Regions from separate parts of the Homo sapiens genome. Here region 2 is linked to region 1. The links come from fine-mapping of genetic effects on plasma protein levels. A gene starts in region 1. The other region holds a variant in brackets. All regions are shown on one strand. Distances are between the middles of the regions.

Region 1 (5,373 bases):
AAGACCCTGGCTCCTTTCTCACTACCTCCCCTAGGGCAGAATCTATTATATTAAGGCCAGTTGTTGGTCTTTTAACTTACCAGTCAAGAGATACTGCTTCTGGCTGTTGGCTTCTAGTTTCACACCACAGAGGGAAGAGTCAAAAGGCGTATAGATATACTGAACATCCTTGACTTTCTCAAACCCTTTGAACATCTGACAGGCAATTACAAAAAAAGGCAATATTGGGTCAGTGAGTGTACTGTATATATTAACAGACAAAAACCTCTCACTTCTCAGCCTAAAAATGTAAGCAAAAGTCTAGTTGAGGATTTTGTGTCCTCAGATGTCCCTACTGGGTTATTTTCTCTCTTAAAACAAAACAACAACAACAAAAAACACCTAAACCTTGGTTTATTCCAGTAGGTACCTGTAGTGGCACCATACACCAGCAGCTGTGGGACCAGATGGATGCTGAGGCCCTCCCTGGCAATATCCCTGGGATTCTATGGGCTCTGCCTCCAAATCTCATCCAGTTCCACTTCAGTATCTAGACCCAAGGATTACTGAGCCAGGCCACCTGAAAGCTACCAGCCCTCCCAGAACACAGACTCCACTTTCTCCATCAGCCTTAGGGGCTACACATCCCAGCCTGCCCCCATGTACCTTTATCTGTTTGATTTCATACCGGAGCATTTTTTCAGTGTCAGCAGGGTCTGCACTGGCCGGAACTACCTTCTCACTGGAGATTTTGGCCCGAATCACTGCATAGGAAGAGAAAAGAGGGAACCTTCAGCAGCTGGTGGGGGCAATACACCTGAGGTCTGGATGATCCAGGGTCCATGAAGAAGTCTATAGGGCAGTTCTTGGTTTTGGTGTGGCTGGGTTGTGAGCAACGTGATGTGTGAGAAGGGGGACCTGGAAACACCTCCCCTGCAGTCACTGGAAGTTCCAAACCCCTCAGGCTTATTAGGTCCTATAACCGCTAAGCTGTTTCTGCCTTTTGAACCAGTTAGTCTGGAGAGCTCTAGTTCTCCATAGCCGTTTGTGCAGTGGGGCACAGGGTAGGAGTCAGAGTAGAGAAGGGAGGAGGAGCCCCTTCAGGGCAGTCGGTGTGAAGTTTATCTATTGCTGTGGTCAAGGCCTCTCATCCCGCCTACAGTTGATATTAGTAAATGTTTATTGAATTCATAAATGTTCTGACCCTGCACTGAGGTATTGCATCTCTTGCCATTTGAGCATTAATAACCAAAAACTGTTGATGATGTTCTTCCTCTGTGCCTGGCCTTGCACTAGGCACTAGGCCCATAGATGTGATTAAGACAGGGTCCCCATCCTGCCGAGCTCTTGATCTAGTGGAGTGCACACGTGTAAAGAACAACAGCACAGCATAGTAGGAGCGCTAAGACGGTTAGAGATGCTGAGGCGGCACCAAGGAGCCCGGGAGCCTGCAGAGAAGGGGAGAGACCTAAGTTAGCCCTTGAAGGATGAGTAGGAGTCTGCCAGGAATTTAAGGGTGTGAGGGAGGGCATTCCAGGCAGAGGGAAGAGAAAGGACAGAACGTGTGTGTTGCCATAGGGGCTTGGTGGCAACCTCAGTTATAGGCCTGGACAGACACGGGTAGTTACAATGCAAGCCCTCTCCCCTCCCCTTTCTGTCCCCAGTCTAGTAGTTCAGAATAATCATCAGATAGCTCCGGTGACACCTTGTGTAATGACACTCCATAATTGCAGTATGGCCGGAGTGAGGGAGGTCGCTATGGAAGTCCCTGATGAAATCTTCATTTCCTTATGAATCAGTCAGGTTCTGGGCTTGCAAGGTTGCTATGGCGCCTGGTCCTTCTCCACCCATCAGCCTCAGCAAGAGACAACCGGTAAGAATTTGAGCTCCTCCCTTTTCCTCTGGACTCCTGGTGTACTGCTGGCCAGATACTAATCCCCCACAACCACCCCCTGCTGTGGACCTCGCGGACCTCGGACTCACCAAGTGCCGAGTGGCAGATGTGCTGCTGAGGGTGCGCCGGGGCGCAGCTGCATGCCTCACCCAGCCCCGGGGGCCGCAGCAACGCCAGCAGCCGCAGCAACAGCACCCAGCTTGGCGCGGGCCGAGGGCTCCCAGGCATGACACTGCAGATCCGCGACTGAGCCTGTGAGGTCTGGGGGACTGGACGGCCCCAGCAGGGCTCCTTCCCAAGGCCGTTGTGCCCCTCGCCCCAGGCTTTATGAGGTGGCCCTAAGGGCCAATCCCGCCCCGACGGGCTCCGCCTTCCTTTGGCTCTAGGCCACCCGCGGAGGCAGGACCCGAGGCTCTTCCGACCTGCATACTCAGTAAGATGCAGAGGGAAGCCTGGAAGGAGGCCCTGACCTCTGTTTCCCTGCCTAAGTCATGAAGCGATCTGGAAGCAGAGGGGAAGCACTGGGAGAGGGGATGGTGTCAAGGGCAGAAAGACGGAAAGAGCCACAAAGACAAATGCATGAGGACAGAAAAACTGAGGGCTGTGATTCAGGCAGAAAGAACAAGAGTGAGGAGAGGCACAGACAGAAAGAGTGAGACAGGCAGAGTCCCAGAGAGGCAGACAGAATTACAACAGGCAAAAGAGACAGTGACAGAGAAGGACGGACCCCTTGCTGAGCTGCACGCTGGGAATGAGACGAGCTACTCAGGGCTTCTTTCAGCTGCAGGAAGTGCTTTCAATGCCCTATTTATGAGGCTCCAAAGCAACAGCAAACAGTAATAGAACAGGACAGAGAAAGTTGGGGTGTGTGTGTCTTGGCTCTGTTGCCTGGGGGGTGGGGAGAGATGTCAAAGAAGCAGCCAGTGCTTTAGAAACCCTTTCTCACTCCCAGAGCCTCAGACTCTCCAGATAGCTGGAGACAGCGCTCTTGGTGTACAAAACACAAAGTGTCCCATCACTTAGGGCAAACCTTGGACCTCAAAGCCCTCTCGAGGCCCTAGACTACATTGATTTTTATTGCATGTCCCTTCTCACTGGAGACTCTGTCATGTTCTAGAAGGTGGGACAGCTTAGAAAACAAAGAAGCAGGCTGGGCGTGGTGGCTCACGCCTGTAATCTCAGCACTTTGGGAAGCCAAGGCGGGTTGATCACCTGAGGTCAGGAGTTCGAGATCACCCTAGCCATCATGATGAAACTCCGTCCCTACTAAAAATACAAAAGTTAGCCGGGCGTGGTGGCCTACACCTGTAGTCCCAGGTACTCAGGAGGCTGAGGCAAGAGAATGGCTTGAACCCAGGAGGCGGAGGTTGAAGTGAGCTGAGACTGTGCCACTGCACTCCAGTCTGGGCGACAGAGTGAGACTCCGTCTCAAAAAAAAAAAAAAAAAAAAAAAAGTAAAAGAAAAAACAAAGAAGCAGGGGACTTGGGGGTGACTGTGACCAGAGCCTTGTCTGCTGTTTGGGCACAGTGTTGCAAGCCTCCAAATCCCAAATCTCCATGGGATTATTGCTGTGGGATGTTTCCACATGGTGCTGGACTGGATAGTGGGAGGCTGGGTTCCAATTCTGACTGTCACTGTAGCTTTGTGACTTTTGCCTCTCTGGGCCTCAGTTTTTTCTTCATAAAGTAGAGTTGAACTACGTGATTTCTAAAGCCCTTTGAAGTTCTTCTTCCCATCCTTGGCTGGCCTCAACCAGGAATGCTGAGATCCTCAGGCCAGATACCCCCAGTATCTGTTCAAATCTTAGTTCCCATAGGAGTCTGACTTTTCATCAGGGTCAACATTATTTCCTTCAAAGGATACCTTTTCATTTTGATGGTGTTAGTGATATTTGAAAAGAAGGGAATTGAAAGAGAGCTGAGTCTGACTGAAAGATGAAATGCCCGGGTTAGCATCCAGGCTGGTTCTTCATACAATGTTCAGACCAAGATAGAGGCTGATGTACTATTTGAAGGGAGCTCAGAAAGCATCCCATCTGATCTCTTCATTGGACAGATGTGAAGGCTGAGGCCCAGTGAGATACAGTGACTTGTAGAAAGTCCGTGGCAGAAGAGGACTAGAGTACTCGTCTCCTGACATCTAGCCCAGTGCTCCTTCCACTCCACAATATTACTTCTTACATCACCATTTTGTAGCAGCTTGAAATCTTGCCCTTAGAGGATAATCCTTCTTTTAAGGTTTTGTTGCTCCTCTGTTAAAGTATGGCTACCTCAGTGTAGAGTTCGCTCCCCTAAGGATCTCTCTGCATTTATAAACATACTGAATTCTTCTACCGGCTCTCTTTCAAACCCCAAGCTGGGAAGAAATGGGCCTTCACATGCAAAGCCTTGTTTGGTGGTGAGATTGGGGTATTGGTGAGCAGTGAAGAGTGTGAAAGAGGGAGAAAACAACCAGGATCATTACAGGAAAGCTGGGCCTTTGAAGGTTGTAGGTACCAAGAGGGTACATGCTGACAGGGACATCAAGATGCCAAAGATGTGTTTTTAAAATAAAAATACAGGTTTATTAAAGTACATCTACATATAGTAAAGTTCACTCTTTCAGAGATACTTTCTTTTTTTAATTCTCTTTGTCTGAGGGCCAGTCCTGCCCAGGTTTTGTCTAATGCAGAGAAAATTGACAGTGCATTTTAAAGATGTAGGGTATACCAAATAAGAGTACAGGGTTCTTGTAGCACTGCCACTAATATGCTCTGTGACCCTGGGAACTCACTGTCATTCCATGGGTCTCAGTTTTTTAATCTGTAAAGCAAGTAGATTGGACTAGTTCTTTAAAGAACCCTCCCAAGGGTATTCCCAAGAAAAATATGTGTAGGATTCCACGGAGAGATGGGCACACTCTGACAGTTTATTCATTTCTCTTCTGATTTCAGCTGACACTGCCCACGTTCCCTGTGGTGGTGAAGATTGGCCACGCTCACTCAGGCATGGGCAAGGTGAGGCAGAGAGGCCTGCTGTGCTTCAGGGTTGAACCAAGAAGGGCAGTTTTCAGAGCGCCCATTTGTGAACTGCTATTCTCCCTCTGTCACTGATGAATTCTTTCCAAAGAGAAGATGATTTGCCACCTCTAAAGCCATGAGTGTCACCCAACCAGACCTCTTTCAGTAAGCAGAATGCAAGCCACCTGCTTGGTCCTCTGGGTCCTTTGCAGCAAGTGTGGCCCTTGAGTTCTGGGAAGGGAAGCTAGGGAGAAGGGGCCTCCTGGGGAGATGTGGCACCCAGATTAGTGTCTGGATCGGATACATATTGGTGGGTTTGGAGGCTCAGGGCCCTTGTGACTTCTCAGTGTGTGTATGTGTGTGTCTCCCTTTCCCCCTTTCTGCCCTGCTCTAACATTAGGTCAAAGTGGAAAACCACTACGACTTCCAGGACATTGCCAGCGTGGTGGCTCTCACCCAGACCTATGCCACTGCAGAGCCTTTCATTGACTCCAAGTATGA
Region 2 (5,373 bases), 280 kb after region 1:
CAGGAGTTGGAGGCTGCAGTGAGCCATGATCATGCCACTGCACTGGGCAACAGATTAAGACTCTGTCACAAAAAAAAAAGCGTTAAGTTAAGGAGCGTGAATAAAAATAATACATTTCATATTCTAAGACAATATCATCTACAACTTTATTCCAATATAAATTACTAAAACTTTACCATATAAGTAGTAGAAAGCCTGAATAGATAAAAGCTATGGAAGAAAAATTAAAGATAGTGATAGATTTATCACCAAGCTCAGATGGTTCTGCAAACAAATTCTAAGAAACCGTCAGGGAACAGATCATTACTGCGTTGACACAGAAGGCAAACCTCTCAACTTGGTGTATAAGGCTAGTTAACATTGTTACTAAAACAGGCAAAGAATGGCCCCCAAAATAACTCTAAACCAGTATCACCTACAAATACAAAAACTCTATATAAAATATTAGCAAGTGAGTACAAGAGTATAAGGAACTCTATTAATGTAATTCACTGTGCTAGGTTAAGATAAAACCATAACTCTTCAGATATCATAGCTCTTTAGATAGAAAAATGTAAAAGTATTTGATAAAAATTCAACAACATTCCTGACTAAAACAAATTAAAATTGTAAAACCCCTGGAAAGCCAGGAGTAAAACATGTTCTCCATAATCTATAGCAAACATCATAGTTGCTGATAAACCATTAGAAGCATTTCCTTCAAAGTTAGGAATAAAACAAGAATTGCTACTATTGCTACTATTATTTAATCCCATATTGGAGGTTTTAGCCAACACACTATGGCAAGAAGAGGAAATGAGAAAGGTTAATGCTGCAAAAGAAGAAATAAATAAAGCTACCATTGCTGATATAATTATCTATCCAAAAAAAGTAGAAATCCATGATTAAAAGCTATTTGAACTGATAAAAGTTCAGAAAATTGGAATTGTTTCAATATACTAAAATCAATTAGTTTTCTGCACATCAGTGGGGATATATTAGATGTAATGAAAATGAAGGGTCCATTCACAATAGAAGCTATAAAGTATTTGAGAATAAATCTAACAAGATCTACATAAAGAAAAAAGTAAACTGCTTAAAAGTAATTTAAGTTCACCATTTGCAAATTGAACTAAAGAAAAATCTAAAGAAGAACTAGTGAAAATTGCTTGCAATCTTACCACTGAAAAGAAACCTCTGTTAAAATGTATCAGTATTTTAAAACTGTGTTTTGTCCTTTGGAAATATGCCATATTAAGCAAACATAGCATAAGCAAATTAAGCAAAAAGACAAACCTTTTTTTAAAAGCATATTTGTGAAAAAAGCATATTTGAAGCTATGATAAGAAACTGAGTAGAAGCTATAAAACGTAGATTCATCAGGAAGGAGCAGAAGTTGAAAAGGAGATTTCTGGCTGGGCACAGTGGCTCATGCCTGTAATCCCAGCACTTTGGGAGGCCAAGGCGGGTGGATCACTTGAGGTCAGGAGTTTGAGACAAGCCTGGCCAACATGGTGAAACCCTATCTCTACTAAAAATACAAAAATTAGAAAGGCGTGGTGGTGAGCACCTATCATCCCAGCTACTCAGGAGGCTGAGGCAGGAGAATAGCTTGATCCCGGGAGGCATAGGTTGTAGTGAGCCGACGTCATGCCACTGCACTCCAGCCTGGATGACAGAGCAAGACTCCATCTCAAAAAAAAAAAAAAAGAAAAGAAAAGAAAAGGAGATTTCTGAGTAGAAACACGTTAGCAGAGGAAACTTCATTTGGGGAACAGGATTGTTTTGATGCCATGCTCCCTCAGCTGACCACACAGATTACATCCTGGCCAGAAAAAGGCCCTGCAAAGAGCTCTGATCATTTTGGTTCTGATTCCATCCTTAGTTCTTACCCATTATCTGCTTACCCTTCCTCCCCACCTATTTAAGATACAAAGCAAAACAAACCAAAAATACAGATGAGTTGCTTGGTAGAGCTGCCTAGGCCTCCAAGGCGGGGCCCAGAGGATTTTTTGACTGAACCCCCTGTTGTGTTTTCCATATGTGCTTCCCCAGACCGCCCAGGTTTGCTGAATGTGAAGCCCATTGAAGACATTCAAGACAACCTGCTACAAGCCCTGGAGCTCCAGCTGAAGCTGAACCACCCTGAGTCCTCACAGCTGTTTGCCAAGCTGCTCCAGAAAATGACAGACCTCAGACAGATTGTCACGGAACA[C/T]GTGCAGCTACTGCAGGTGATCAAGAAGACGGAGACAGACATGAGTCTTCACCCGCTCCTGCAGGAGATCTACAAGGACTTGTACTAGCAGAGAGTCCTGAGCCACTGCCAACATTTCCCTTCTTCCAGTTGCACTATTCTGAGGGAAAATCTGACACCTAAGAAATTTACTGTGAAAAAGCATTTTAAAAAGAAAAGGTTTTAGAATATGATCTATTTTATGCATATTGTTTATAAAGACACATTTACAATTTACTTTTAATATTAAAAATTACCATATTATGAAATTGCTGATAGTATTTGAAGACTGAGTCTTGTGTGTTTCCCACCCTAGCCCCCAGGCTTTCTTTTTTACCCCTTTTCCTTCTCCCCTCCCTCCCTCCATCCCTCTCACTCTTCCTCCCTCCCTTCCCTCCTTTCCTTCTTCCTTTATTTTTCTTTTCTTTCTTAGACATTTTAAAATATGTGAGTGGAACTGCTGATACACTTTCATTCTCAGTAAATTAATTTTTTACTCAATTTACAACTTTTCGGAACTCTGCATCTGCTTTAACAATCAGAACTAAGAAGGGAAGGGGAACTTCAGAATCAGAAACTGCTCAGAGCATGTGTTTTGTAGCCTGGATGTGCTGATATGCAGCATATCCCTGGGATTACCCAGAATTCAGTCTTCTTCCACAATCCTAACCGAGATTTTCACGCACCACCAGCAGCCTACTCGTATACTACCTACTAATCAATGCCACTGCGCACCCACAGAGCCAGTGGCCAGCAACTGAGCACTGCTAGAAACTCTGGGGAACACAGAACTTTTTTAAGATTTGGTATCTGCGCCAGGCATGGTGTCTCAAGCCTTTAATCCACGCACGTTAGGAGGCCAAGGTGGATGGATCGATTGAGCTGGTCTCTTGTTCGAGACCCTGTCTCCACAACAGTTTTAAATATTAGCCATGTGTGGTGGCACACACCTGTAGTCCCAGCTACTCGCAGGCTGAGGCGGGAGGATTGCTTGAGCCTGGGAGTTGAGGCTGCAGTGAGCTGTGATGATGCCACTGTATTCCAGCCTGGGCCACAGAGTGAGACCCTGTCTCTAAAAAAAGATAAAAAAGATTTGACACCTGCCAAAAAGAATTTACCGATTATAAACTGAGGAGAAAAGATTAATCTTTTTTCATACAGATTCAAATACGCAGATGAAATCACATGCCAGGTGAATGGTAAGAGTTTGTAGGAAGTAAGATGAGTGAAGATTGGAATCCCAGAGACTGAATCTGTGGATTTGCTGAAGAGGGCCTCAGGGAAGTGTTAGACTGGAATAGGTAGAGAGGAGGAGAAAAGACATTCCAGAGAAGCAAAATAACAGGAACACAATGAAAGAAAAAAAAAACTGAGGGAGAAGAGCTACTTTCTGTTTTCTCCTTCTGCAAGGCAGTTTTGCTGTGATTATTCCTGTCCTCCTCCTTGGGACCACTCTGTCCAGAGATCTCTTTTCTGAACTGAGAGGCTAACTATCCGCATCATTAATGGAATGCTTGCCTCCCAAGCAGATAGATTCTAAGTTCCCTGAAGGCGTGACAATCTATTCATTCTTGGCACAGTGAATAGATTCGTTGATTCAATCCACCAAATTCACTTGCATTGGCTACTCATGAACTCATCATACTATGTCTTTGAAGAATGCCTTACGGGGTGTCTAAGGGAGAGAATAGAGTCATGGGTTCTCCATTTCTGTTTCTGACTGGGCCAATAAAGCCCCTTCCTCATCCCTCTTTTCCACTTACCACTAGGGACAGAAATTAAAAACCATGGCTTCAGGCTACTAAAAGCCTAAACCAAACCAAATCAAACCAAACAACAACAACAAAATAAGGCAGGTTGGACAAGCTTACGAGTGTAACCAAACTATCTGGAGGTGTCTGTTGTGCGGGACGCTTATTTCCACTGACCTAAATTTCCCTGCCACTTCTCCCTTAATTTATCTTGCCTTAGGATATTTACACTCAGGAGACATAACTGCAGACTTGAGGTTTTCAAGCCAAAATATCAAGAAAGACCTGTTCATCTTTTGCTTAAAAATAACTATATCTCCAAAGAATCAGGTTATAGAAGTGAGTACTGACCCCAGCCCTAAAAATGTAGGATTCCTAACCCTTCAGGAGAGACCTTTCTGAGCTCAAACCTTTAGGATGACAGATAGACAAAGACTGAAGCCATTGTCTAAGTAACACCAAAACATTTGGAAGGAAAGTGACAAATTCAGTCAGTCATATGGCTCTTTTTTTTTCTTCCTTGATGCCAAACATCAGGATATTTTGAAACTTATTTTCAAACACCCAGATGACTGGCTAGAGTCTTCTGTGTAGAGAGCTGATGGTCAGGGATCTCTTGGAAGAGAGAATGTACAGGCAGTAGACAAGATAGAGTCCACTTCTGAGGCGCTCCCTTATTTACAAGCTTTCTTGAACAAAAAGTCTTTCAGCCCCGCTGCCTGGTCTCAGTTCCCACCAGCGCTCCGCAGCCCATCCAAGCCTTTCCACATTATCGGAGCTGTTGCTGCCAATGGAAGGAGGAAGAGAAACGCTCTCAGCTCTCTGGCACTGATGGTTAGCATTAAATGGCTTTTAAATCCTGGCAGCTTTCAAATTCCCATCTCTGACTTTTTCCCTGTGGCTTGGAAGATCATTTGCTAAATATTTGACAACACTTTATATTCAGCCTCCAAAGCTCCTGCTCCTTTCTCCCTCTTTCTCTCCCCCAGGATGAATCATAAGTTAACGAATCTGTCATCAGTTATTCATAGTACTTTCTCTGGACACAAACACATGTAGGGATGTGTGTTAATAAAAATAGGAAGAAAAGTAACTTTGGTCAAGAGTCAAGAAAGGGTTTCCAGGCTCCCACAAGAGCCCTCCCCCAGCACCTCCCTGGAACGGGCTCCCTTTTCCTTCCTCCCGCTGTGTGTGGAGCCCAGGAACGAAGAGGGGACACACAGAAGAAACAAAGCTGCACACCCTGTTTCTCCAGCCGCCATAAGAAATTAGGCTGGCCTGAGTTTCTGGCTCCTTTTTTACAATGTGGGTGCAGAGCAAGGAGCCTAGGAGGCTCAGGGTCGGAAGAGGTGGCAGCACTAGCTGATGTCACATAGCGAATTTCCAACTAGAGGAAGCCAGAGGGGCAGC

The links. PIP is the posterior inclusion probability: the model's chance that the variant is causal. Sun 2018 read protein levels with aptamers (SomaScan).
Region 2: its variant is fine-mapped to the plasma level of the TIMP4 protein (Sun 2018, PIP 0.95).

The regions. Positions count from the first base shown.
Region 1 is chr3:12,156,740-12,162,112 of GRCh38, forward strand. TIMP4 (TIMP metallopeptidase inhibitor 4) reads right to left here and starts at 2,173. Exons shown (of 5, transcript NM_003256.4): 1 at 1,963-2,173; 2 at 646-743; 3 at 81-195. The coding sequence starts at 2,101. SYN2 (synapsin II) reads left to right here. Exons shown (of 13, transcript NM_133625.6): 6 at 4,807-4,869; 7 at 5,273-5,373.
Region 2 is chr3:12,431,864-12,437,236 of GRCh38, forward strand. PPARG (peroxisome proliferator activated receptor gamma) reads left to right here. Exons shown (of 8, transcript NM_138711.6): 8 at 2,035-2,481. The coding sequence ends at 2,282. Among named protein-coding and RNA genes, the nearest start is that of TSEN2, 50 kb to the right of the region's middle. The variant C/T (reference allele first, on the strand shown) is at 2,195.